Linked DNA regions of Homo sapiens: region 1 is linked to region 2. Evidence: fine-mapped expression QTL. A gene starts in region 2. The other region holds a variant in brackets. All regions are shown on one strand. Distances are between the middles of the regions. Region 1 has its middle 7.3 kb from the start of MIR4648. Region 2 holds the start of BRAT1 (BRCA1 associated ATM activator 1).

Evidence for each region. PIP is the estimated chance that this variant, and not a neighbour inherited with it, causes the effect.
Region 1: its variant is fine-mapped to the expression of BRAT1 in monocytes (Quach 2016, PIP 0.95).

What each region holds. Positions count from the first base shown.
Region 1 is chr7:2,531,706-2,537,069 of GRCh38, reverse strand. No RefSeq gene overlaps it. Among named protein-coding and RNA genes, the nearest start is that of MIR4648, 7.3 kb to the right of the region's middle. RefSeq lists enhancers at 68-567, 568-1,069, 1,779-2,698, 2,699-3,619, 4,805-5,364. The variant G/C (reference allele first, on the strand shown) is at 3,160.
Region 2 is chr7:2,553,105-2,558,468 of GRCh38, reverse strand. BRAT1 (BRCA1 associated ATM activator 1) reads left to right here and starts at 2,945. Exons shown (of 14, transcript NM_152743.4): 1 at 2,945-2,982; 2 at 4,022-4,164. The coding sequence starts at 4,038. RefSeq lists an enhancer at 2,361-3,038 and a silencer at 2,951-3,190.

The sequences.
Region 1 (5,364 bases), 21 kb after region 2:
CCTAACCTCAGGTGATCCACCTGCCGTATCTCTTTTGTTTTTAATTAGCTGGGCATGGTGGTATGCACCTGAAGTCCCAGCTACTTGGGAGGCTGAGGTGGGAGGATTGCTTGAGCCCAGGAGTTCGAGGCTGCAGTGAGCCGTGATCACACCACCGCACTCCAGCCTGGGTGACAGAGAGAGACCCTATGTCAAAACAACGCATTGAGTGCTTGGAGTTCTCTGCATTCTTGGCAGCACCTCAAATCTGTGCTAGCACCTCAAATCTGTGCTAGAGAAGACCTGTAGCCCTAACTTCTGAAGAACTTTTTCTTTTTGCTTCTCTTAGCACCAAGTGTCTTTCGTGTGGAGGGAGCAGGGCTAATTCCGTTTCATTCTTACCCTAAGAGTGTAGACCTTTAGGTTTTCAGCTTAAGGTGGGAAGGGTTTTCTATAATGCTCCCCATTTTGGGCAGGACTGGCCCTTGACTTCTGTCCCCCTGACCCCTCAAGGCCACAGAATGAGAACCCAAGTTTGCTGGTTTTGGCAAATGCCCTCCAACAAAAGGGCACCTCCCGGGTGGCACAGCCGTGGGCTGGTGCGCCCCACCAGGGTGCAGCAGTGACATCAGCCCCGCCTCGGGGCACATGTCCCTTCCTGGTGACAGCAGGCTAGGTGCCTGGACCAGCCGTTTCCCTGAAGACGATGAAACACGCTGGGTGAAATATCCAAAGGCCAGGAACACTGAACAGCTGACAAGATAGCAGGTAATTAAATGCCAGGCCTCGTGCTGGAGGAAAACTGGACTCAGATACAAGGCCCTCCCACAGGGATCTGGAGAGCCTGGCTCTCAGCTCTGGCCTGGGGGAACTCAGAGAGGGAGGGGCTCTGCGGATCAGCTGCCCCTAGGCAGTAACACTGAACCGCAGTACCCAGTGAAAAGAGACTGCAGGGCCCAGCGTGGTGGCTCACGCCTGTAATCTCAGCACTTTGGGAGGCCGAGGTGGGCGGATCTCTCGAGCTCAGGAGTTCAAGACCAGCCTGGCTAACACGGTGAGACCCCGTCCACTAAAAATACAAAAATTAGCTAGGCATGGTGGTGGGCACCTGTAATCACAGCTACTCAGGAGGCTGAGGCAGGAGAATCACTTGAATCCGGGAGGCAAAGGTTGCAGTGAGCCAAAATCACACCACTGCACTCTATCCTGGGCAACAGAGTGAGACTCTGTCTCAAAAAAAAAAAAAAAGGAGCGAGCCGGGGCGCAGTGGCTCACGCCTGTAATCCCAGCATTTTGAGAGGCCGAGGCGGGTGGATCACTTGAGGTCAGGAGTTCAGGACCAGCCTGGCCAACATGGTGAGACCTTGTCTACTAAAAATACAAAAATTAGCTGGGCATGGTGGCAGGTGCCTGTCATCCCAGCTACTCAGGAGGCTGAGGTAGGAGAATCGCTTGAACCCGGGAGGCAGAGGTTGCAGTGAGCCAAGATTGTGCCACTGCACTCCAGCCTGGGTGACAGAATGAGACTCTGTCTCAAAAAACAAACAAACAGAGACTAGAAACTCACACCAATCATTACCTCGTAAGTGCAGTTAGCTCAGGAAGTACAATATTTCCAAAAAGGGGAGAGGTTGCAATTAGCCAAGACTGTGCCATTGCACTCCAGCCTGGGCAACAAGAACGAAACTCCGAGGAAAACCTCTGACACACAGCCTCTCCCTCTCCCTCTCCCTCTCCCTCTCCCTCCCCCTCCCCCTCCCCCTCCCCCTCTCCCTCTCCCTCTCCGTCTCCCTCTCTCTCCACGGTCTCCTTCCACGGTCTCCCTCTGATGCCAAGCCAAAGCTGGACGGTACTGCTGCCATCTCGGCTCACTGCAACCTCCCTGCCTGATTCTCCTGCCTCAGCCTGCCGAGTGCCTGTGATTGCAGGCGCGCGCCGCCACGCCTGACTGGTTTTCGTTTTTTTTTTTGGTGGAGACGGGGTTTTGCTGTGTTGGCCGGGCTGGTCTCCAGCTCCTAACCGCGAGTGATCCGCCAGCCTCGGCCTCCCGAGGTGCTGGGATTGCAGACGGAGTCTCGTTCACTCAGTGCTCAATGGTGCCCAGGCTGGAGTGCAGCGGCGTGATCTCGGCTCGCTACAACCTCCACCTCCCAGCTGCCCGCCTTGGCCCCCCAAAGTGCCAAGATTGCAGCCTCTGCCCAGCCGCCACCCCATGTGGGAAGTGAGGAGCGTCTCTGCCTGGCCCCCCATCGTCTGGGATATGAGGAGCCTCTCTGCCTGGCTGCCCAGTCTGGAAAGTGAGGAGCGTCTCTGCCCGGCCGCCATCCCATCTAGGAAGTGAGGAGCGCCTCTTCCCGGCCGCCATCCCATCTAGGAAGCGAGGAGCGCCTCTTCCCCGCCGCCCATCGTCTGAGATGTGGGGAGCGCCTCTGCCCCGCCGCCCTGTCTGGGATGTGAGGAGCGCCTCTGCTGGGCCGCAACCCTGTCTGGGAGGTGAGGAGCGTCTCTGCCCGGCCGCCCCGTCTGAGAAGTGAGGAAACCCTCTGCCTGGCAACCGCCCCGTCTGAGAAGTGAGGAGCCCCTCCGCCCGGCAGCTGCCCCGTCTGGGAAGTGAGGAGCGTCTCCGCCCGGCAGCCGCCCCGTCCGGGAGGGAGGTGGGGGGGGGTCAGCCCCCCGCCGGGCCAGCCGCCCCGTCCGGGAGGTGAGGGGCTCCTCTGCCCGGCCGCCCCTACTGGGAAGTGAGGAGCCCTCTGCCCGGCCAGCCGCCCCGTCCGGGAGGGAGGTGGGGGGTCAGCCCCCCGCCCGGCCAGCCGCCCAGTCCGGGAGGGAGGTGGGGGGTCAGCCCCCCGCCCAGCCAGCCGCCCCGTCCGGGAGGGAGGTGGGGGGATCAGCCCCCCGCCTGGCCAGCCGCCCCATCCGGGAGGTGAGGGGCGCCTCTGCCCGGCCGCCCCTACTGGGAAGTGAGGAGCCCCTCTGCCCGGCCAGCCGCCCCGTCCGGGAGGTGAGGGGTGCTTCTGCCCGGCCGCCCCTACTGGGAAGTGAGGAGCCCCTCTGCCCGGCCACGACCCCGTCTGGGAGGTGTGCCCAGCGGCTCATTGGGGATGGGCCATGATGACAATGGCGGTTTTGTGGAATAGAAAGGCGGGAAGGGTGGGGAAAAAATTGAGAAATCGGATGGTT[G/C]CCGGGTCTGTGTGGATAGAAGTAGACATGGGAGACTTTTCATTTTGTTCTGTACTAAGAAAAATTCTTCTGCCTTGGGATCCTGTTGATCTGTCACCTTATCCCCAACCCCGTGCTCTCTGAAACATGTGCTGTGTCCACTCAGGGTTAAATGGATTAAGGGCGGTGCAAGATGTGCTTTGTTAAACAGATGCTTGAAGGCAGCATGCTCGTTAAGAGTCATCACCACTCCCTAATCTCAAGTACCCAGGGACACAAACACTGCGGAAGGCCGCAGGGACCTCTGCCTAGGAAAACCAGAGACCTTTGTTCACTTGTTTATCTGCTGACCTTCCCTCCACTATTGTCCTGTGACCCTGCCAAATCCCCCTCTGCGAGAAACACCCAAGAATGATCAATAAAAAAAAAAAAAATAAAAAAAAAAAGAACGAAACTCCATCTCAAAAAAAAAAAAAAAAAAAAAATCTCCCAAAGAAATACCAATAAACAAGAAAATAGTCAAATGTAAAAAAAAAAAAAAAAAAAAAAAAAAAATTTCCAAAAAGGTGACCACAGGGAGAAAAACATGAAGATAACCACCAGCTCAGACCCAGCCGGGGCTTGTGGCCATGCCCACCTGCTCCTGTGTGTCCTGGGCCTCGGGCAAGCCACTCATCCTCTCCCCACTGTTTCCAGTCTGTAAGCTGGGATTAGTGACGCTGCCTTCTCAGTTGTGGGAACCTAGAAGGCAGCAATGGGCCTCTCTCCCTAGGTTGCAACCCGGGGCTGGCACGTAGTAGGTCTGTTTCCAGCTGCCACACACGCTACCTTACCAGGGGTCCCCAAGAGACAGGACAGGGTGATGGGCCCATTTCACAGGGGGAAAAACCGAGGCAAAGAAAGGCAGTGGAGACTCGTGCTTCTGCTTCAGTAGCTCCTGCCATGGACTTGTCATGGGAACCCCCTCCCACAAGCTCTGTCCCCGGCACCCTCTGGCACTGTTAGCCAGCGGAATCCAGCTGTCACCATGGCCTGGTTCTTAGCACCCCTGGGAACTTTTAGAGCCTCTGGCCTGTGCTAACTGAGGTTGGGCAGCTGCTGGCCAGGGCCCTAGAGAGAGGGGTATCAGGTAGCTAGTGCTGAGTAACAAATAGCTCCAAACACATGACTTCACATGTCCTTAGTATTAAAGGGCCTGGTGGTACTGCTGCTCATTGCTAGGCCTGGCAAGTCCTAGCTGGGCTCACTCACACATCTGTGGGCAGCTGGGAGCTAGCTAGTCCAGGATGGCCTCAGCTAGGGTGACCCAGGCTCCATCGCCCTCTTGCCTTCCAGCAAAGCAGCCCAGCCCGTTCTCGTGCTATAGCAGGAGTCGGGGAGAGCAGGCAGAGGCACGCATGTCCCTGGAGGCTTAAGCTCAGAGCTGGGAATGTCATTGCTGTCACCTTTTATTGGCCACAGCAAGTCATAAGACAGGCTCAGATTGAAGGATGGGGAAGTAGACGCCACCTCTAGACAGGAGTTGGGGCAAAGTCACACAGCAAAGGGCGTGGTGATTCAGGGAGGAGTGGGGCATCGGGGACACGTTTGTAACTGATCTACCACAGAGGGGAGCCCCCCTTTGAGAAAGTGCTTGGTGGGCCTTGGTGCTTACGCAGCCACGGACCAACCTGCTAGATGGGGCCTTCAGTAGGGTGGCGGGACGTCAGTTTAGCCTCAGGATTCGACTCCGAGCCTCTTGCGAGACCACGTCTTGGGCAGCATCGTAGACCCGGCTGTGAGCACAGAGTGGCTCTTCCAGAAAGTTTGTTGAATGACTGACTGACCTAAGTCAGTCCCTGTGCCAGGCAGCCCAGAGGGACCAGCCCAGAGCCTCCTTCTCGGGGTGCAAGCCTGGCTTGGGATTGGGGGGTGTCTGCACTCGTGGAGCCCCCCATGCCTGCCGGGAGCCTGAAGACGCAGAGACCTCCTGCCTCGCCTCGCCCCCTCCGTGGGGACCCTCTTCCCCACACTCCTTGGTTCCTGTCGGAGCCAAGATGTGTCACCATGGAAACCGCTTGGCAAACGCTGGCAGGCAGAGGCGGCCAACAGCAGCTCTCCCGATCGAGCTCCGGGCACCGGCTGGAGCAACGTCGCGGGACGGCGTGAGCGAGCACACCCAGCCGTGTGTGACACGCGTGGGGACAGAGGCCGGGGCGGCTGCGGGAGGGCGTGCGGGGAGGTCAG
Region 2 (5,364 bases):
CTTATCTAATTATAGAGCCAGCGCCTATCTACGACCTTTTATCTGTGATTCTGAATTCCACAAACTTCCGAAAGCCCTTCACAACTCATTTGAAGGCCAGACCAGTCCTAACCTCAACTCTCCGGGAGGAAAACTCTGAGCTGAGGCTATTTATAGTGCTTATTTATCCCACGGGGTGTACATGAGTGAGTTTCACTGAATAACTTCTTTTTTTTTTTTTTTTGACGGAGTCTTGCTCTGTGGCCCAGGCTGGAGTGCAGTGGTGCGATCTCCGCTCACTGCAACCTTTGCCTCCTGGGTTCAAGCGATTCTCCTGCCTCAGCTACCCGAGTAGCTGGGACTACAGGTGCGTGCCACCACGCCCAGCTAATTTTTGTATTTTTAGTAGAGACGGGTTTCACCACCTTGACAAGGATGGTCTCGCTCTCTTGATCTCGTGATCCGCCCGCCTCCACCTCCCAAAGTGCTGGGATTACAGGCGTGAGCCACTGCACCCGGCCCTGAATAACTATTAATACGTTTAATTATGGGGTGTGTGTCACACTCTGCTGTAATCTCATATTTAATGTACATGTGCCATGTCACATTTCTAAAATCTGAACAGTTCTGAATTCTGAAAAAACATTTGTCCCCAAAAGTTTGAGATAAGAAATTGTGGACCTGGGCCAGGCACGATGGTGGCTCACGCCTGTAATCCCAGCACTTTGGGAGTCTAGGGTGGGTGGATCACTTGAGGTCAGGAGTTTGAGACCAGCCTGACCAATATGGTGAAACTCTGTCTCTACTAAAAATACAAAAATTAGCCAGGGGTCGTGGGTGCCTGTAGTCTCAGCTACTCAGGAGGCTGAGACAGGAGAATTGCTTGAACCTGGGAGGTGGAGGTTGCAGTGAGCTGAGATCACACCACTGCACTCCAGCCTGGACATCAGAGCGAGACTCCACCTCAAAAAAAAAAAAAATTGTGGACCTGTGCAATACAATATTCAAATCTGGAGCCAGACTGCTTGGGTTCAAATCCAAACTGTGCCAATCCAGTAGCTGTAAGGCCTTATGAGTTAGCCTCTCTGTGCCTCATTTTCCTCATCTGATGGGCTGGTAGTGGTACTCTCCTACCGTTGCTGTAGAATCATACAAGTTTACAGTAAGTGAAGCACTTAGCACAGTGCTGTTGTTGAGTTTTCTTTACTCCACAATTACCTAACTGGGTGAATGTTAGTATCTCATTTCACAATGAGGAACCAAATTTCAGGGAAGATAACTGTGCATTTCAAACTTTTTCACACATGTAGTTCTAAGGATGTACGTGTGTGTGTGTGTGCAGGGGGCATGCAAGCGTCAGGGAAGTTGCTTTTCCAAGGTTACCCAGCACGGCTGGGCGCGTTGGCTCACGCTGGTAGTCCCAGCACTTTGGGAGGCCTAGGTGGGCGGATCACCTAAAGTCAGGAGTTCGAGACCAGCCTGGCCAACATGGTGAAACCCCGTCTCTACTAAAAATACAAAATTAGCTGGGCGTGGTGGCCCGCACCTGTAATCCCAGCTACTCGGGAGGCTGAGGCAGGAGAATCGCTTGAACCCAGGAGGTGGAGGTTGCAGTGAGTCAAGATTGAGCCATTGCACTCCAGTCTGGGCAAAAAGAGTGACACTCCGTCTCCATAAATAAATAAATAAAATAAAGGTGACCCAGCAAAGTCAGTGCTTTTAAATTTTTAAATTTTAATATCCATAGGAATTCTGCTTTGTTTCCTAAATCTGGTGTTGGCTCCCAACAATCTTGCTATAAAACAATGCTTTGGGAACATGAGCCTTGTCTATCCACTGGCTTTGAGACTCTCGAACACACAGTTAGTGTTTTGAACTCAATTTTTTGGACCTAGTTTTTCTGCCTGTTTGCTTTCTTAAAACACAGGGTCTTGCTCTGTTGCCCAGGCTGGAGTGCCGGGGCAGGATCATAGCTCACTGCAGCCTTGAACTTCTGGGCTCAAGCGATCCTCCCGCCTCAGCCTCTGGAGTAGCTGGGACCACAGGCGCATGCTACCAGGTCTGGCTGATTTTCTTTTTTTTTTTTTGAGACGGAGTCTCGCCCTGTAGCCCAGGCTGGAGTGCAGTGGCACCATCTTGGCTCACTGCAACTTCCGCCTCCCAGGTTCAAGAGATTCTCCTGCCTCAGTCTCCCGAGTACTTGGGATTACAGGCGCGCGCCTCCACGTCCGGCTAATTTTGATATCTTAGAGATACAAAAATTAGAGACGAGACGGGATTTCGCCATGTTGGCCAGGCTGGTCTCGAACTCCTGACCTCGTGATCCGCCCGCCTGGGCCTCCCAGAGCGCTGGGATTACAGGCGTGAGCCACCACGCCTGGCCTTTTTTTTTTTTTTTTTTTTTTTTTTTAAATTTTAAGAGATGGGGTCTCGCTTTGTTGCCTAGGCTGGTCTCAACTCCTGGCTTCAAGCAATCCTCCCAACTGCGCCTCCTAAAGGGCTGGAATTACAGGCATGAGCCACAGCGCGGCCGCGGAGGACTTAATTTGAGAACCTGAAGCTAAATGACCAAGGGCTTTGGTGCACGGATCAGGACGCTTCTCTCCGGCACATAGTTTTCTCGCTCCCGCCGGTGCAGACACTGGGCGCCCTGCAGGCGAAGCCCCGCCCCTCCGGACACAACCCCGCGCCTTCCTCAGAGATCCCCGCCCTCGAGACGCCCCGCCCACCCACCGGATGCTCGGCATGAACCACTAGGCGCCTGGCGGGGGTGATCTGTCGGAGCGACCGGCTTGGCGCCTGCCTGTCCCCAGCCCCTCTCAGCTTGAACTCCTTCCTTCAAGTCTGGGCCCTCGAGGCTTCCAGAGCGGCCTCCAGGGGTGCAGTCTCAGTTCCCCACGCCAGCCGTCTCCGTCCTCCGCCTCCTCCGGGCCTGGCAGGTGGCACTGTCCGGAGGCGGAGCCTTGGGCGAGGGGTGGTTGCGGCGGAGGACGCAACCGAGCGGTGAGGCGCGTGGGCCTTCGGGGGTCGAGGTCGTGGTAGTGGGGCGCGGGGAGGCCAAGACCCGGCCGAGGGGGGCGGGCGGGCCAGGGAGCAGCCCAGCCCGGGGCGTGCGCGACCTGGGCTCGCTTCCCAGCCCGACTGTGGCCGCCTGCTCTGGCGCCCCTTCTGGACTCTCGGGCCTGGCGCTCGCGGCCAAAACTGACTTCAAAGTGTGGGGAGGGTTCCTCTTCCCGGGACGCAGCCTTCCCGGGCATTGGCAGACGGTGCCCCGGTTAGACAGAGCCGCTGACCACCCCGCCCACCCCCGAGGCTGGACGCACGGATGCACACCTGGTCCTGGGAGAGACAGGCGCCCCTTCCTTTCCGCACCCCGCCGCCCCCCTCTCCCCCCCGCCGGCTTCAGATGCAGCCACCACTAATCCTGGGAGGGACAGACACACGGACAGGTGCCCCTTCCCCTCCTCACCCTCCTACTGGCTGCAGAACAGCAAATGCAGCCACCACTGACCCTGAGAGGGACAGACACACGGACAGGCGCCCCTTCCCCTCCGCACCCCCCTGCTGGCTTCAGGACGTCAAATGCAGCCACCACTTGACGCTGGGAGGGACAGAAACTTTCCAGCCCAGGCTGGCCCTGGGGCATGGGTAGACATCCCCTTGCACACATGGCTGACCCCGGAACTCAAAGATGCCCCTGACTCTGGCCCACCTGCAGCCTGGGCCAGCACCACGCTGTTGCCCCGACTGCACCAAAGACCAAGGGTGACAGACTTTGAGTTCCGGAGGCCTTGTGGTTTCAGCTAGACCCTCATCTGCCCCTTTCAGCCCCGCCACCAGCGCTCAGGGCCCCACCTAGACCAAAGCTTTGCATCCATCCCTGCAGTACAGACCTCTGGTCTGGGGATCATGGTTCTCCTGGTCTGAGATGAAAGTTCTGGGGCCCCTTCCCAGGCCTGAGCAGGCATGGTGGGCTGCTGTGACTAGAGCGAGCTGGGTCTGGAGTGGGCATTGAGGTTTGGCTCTCACATTGCCTTTGCAGGGCCTGCGGCCTCACCATGGACCCAGAATGCGCCCAGCTGCTCCCGGCTCTCTGTGCTGTTCTGGTAGATCCCAGGCAGCCGGTGGCAGATGACACCTGTTTGGAGAAGCTCCTGGACTGGTTTAAAACGGTCACTGAAGGAGGTAAGGAGGTGGTGCTGCTGTTTACTGCCTATCCAGAGACCAGACGCAGAGGCTGGGACAGGGAGCAGGGGCCAGATGGGGACTCCCCTGTCCTGGAGGAAGGGCAGAAACTGCCAATCAGATGTCTTTCCTTCACTTCCTAAGGATTATCTGTGGCAGACTGAGGGCAAGTTAAGATGAAGCCCGAGAGAATGATCTGGAGAGTTAGAGCCTGAAATTCAGCCAGTTGAGCCACGATCAGGGCACCCCAAGGTTCAGTTCTACAGAAGGCGTGAACAAACTTGTTTTATTGTTGTTCTCGTTGTATTTAGTGTGTTTAAGACATCAGATTTGTTTTCTTTCTGATTATGAAAGTAGGGGCCGGATGCAGTGGCTCATACCTGTAATCCCAGCACTTTGGGAGGCTGAGGCGAGCGGATTGCTTAAGTCCAGGAGTTCAAGACCAGCCTGGTCCAACATAGCGAGACGTCATCTCTAAAAAAAAAAAAAACAAAAATTAGCTGTGCCTGGTGGCGCACCTGTAGTCCCAGCTACTCTGGAGGCTGAGATGGGAGGATCCTTTGAGTCCGGGAGGTAGAGGTTGCAGTGAGCTATGATTGTGCCACTGCACCCTGACCTGGGTGATAGAGTGAGACCCTGTCTCAAAAAAAAAAAACAAAGTAATACATGTTCTTTAAAACATGAACAAAAGAGTAAAGAGGAAAATTAAACCATCAACGTTTTAATTTACTCCCAGCCTTTTCATAACACATAAAGCTGTATTTTTCTGGGGAAAAAAAAATGAGGTCATACTGTAAACACAATTTTGGTGTCTTGCTTTCTCTCTTGCTATCATAGTGAGTGTTTTCTCCACATAATATGTTAATGTTATTGACTACATGTTATTTGCTGTAGGAATAGACCATAATTAATTGAATCACTCCACTGTCAGATGTTTATATTTCTCATTTTTCATCATTTTAAGTAGTGTCATAGGTCAGGCGCGGTGACTCATGCTTGTAATCCCATCACTTTGGGAGGCCAAGGCGGGTAGGTCACTTGAAGTCAGGAGTTCGAAACCAGCCTGGCCAACATGGTGAGACCTCGTCTCTACTAAAAATAAAAAAATTAGCCGGGCATGGTGGCATGCGCCGTAATCCCAGCTACTTGGGAGACTGAGGGGGAGGATCGCTTGAACCCAGGAAGCGGAGGTTGCAGTGA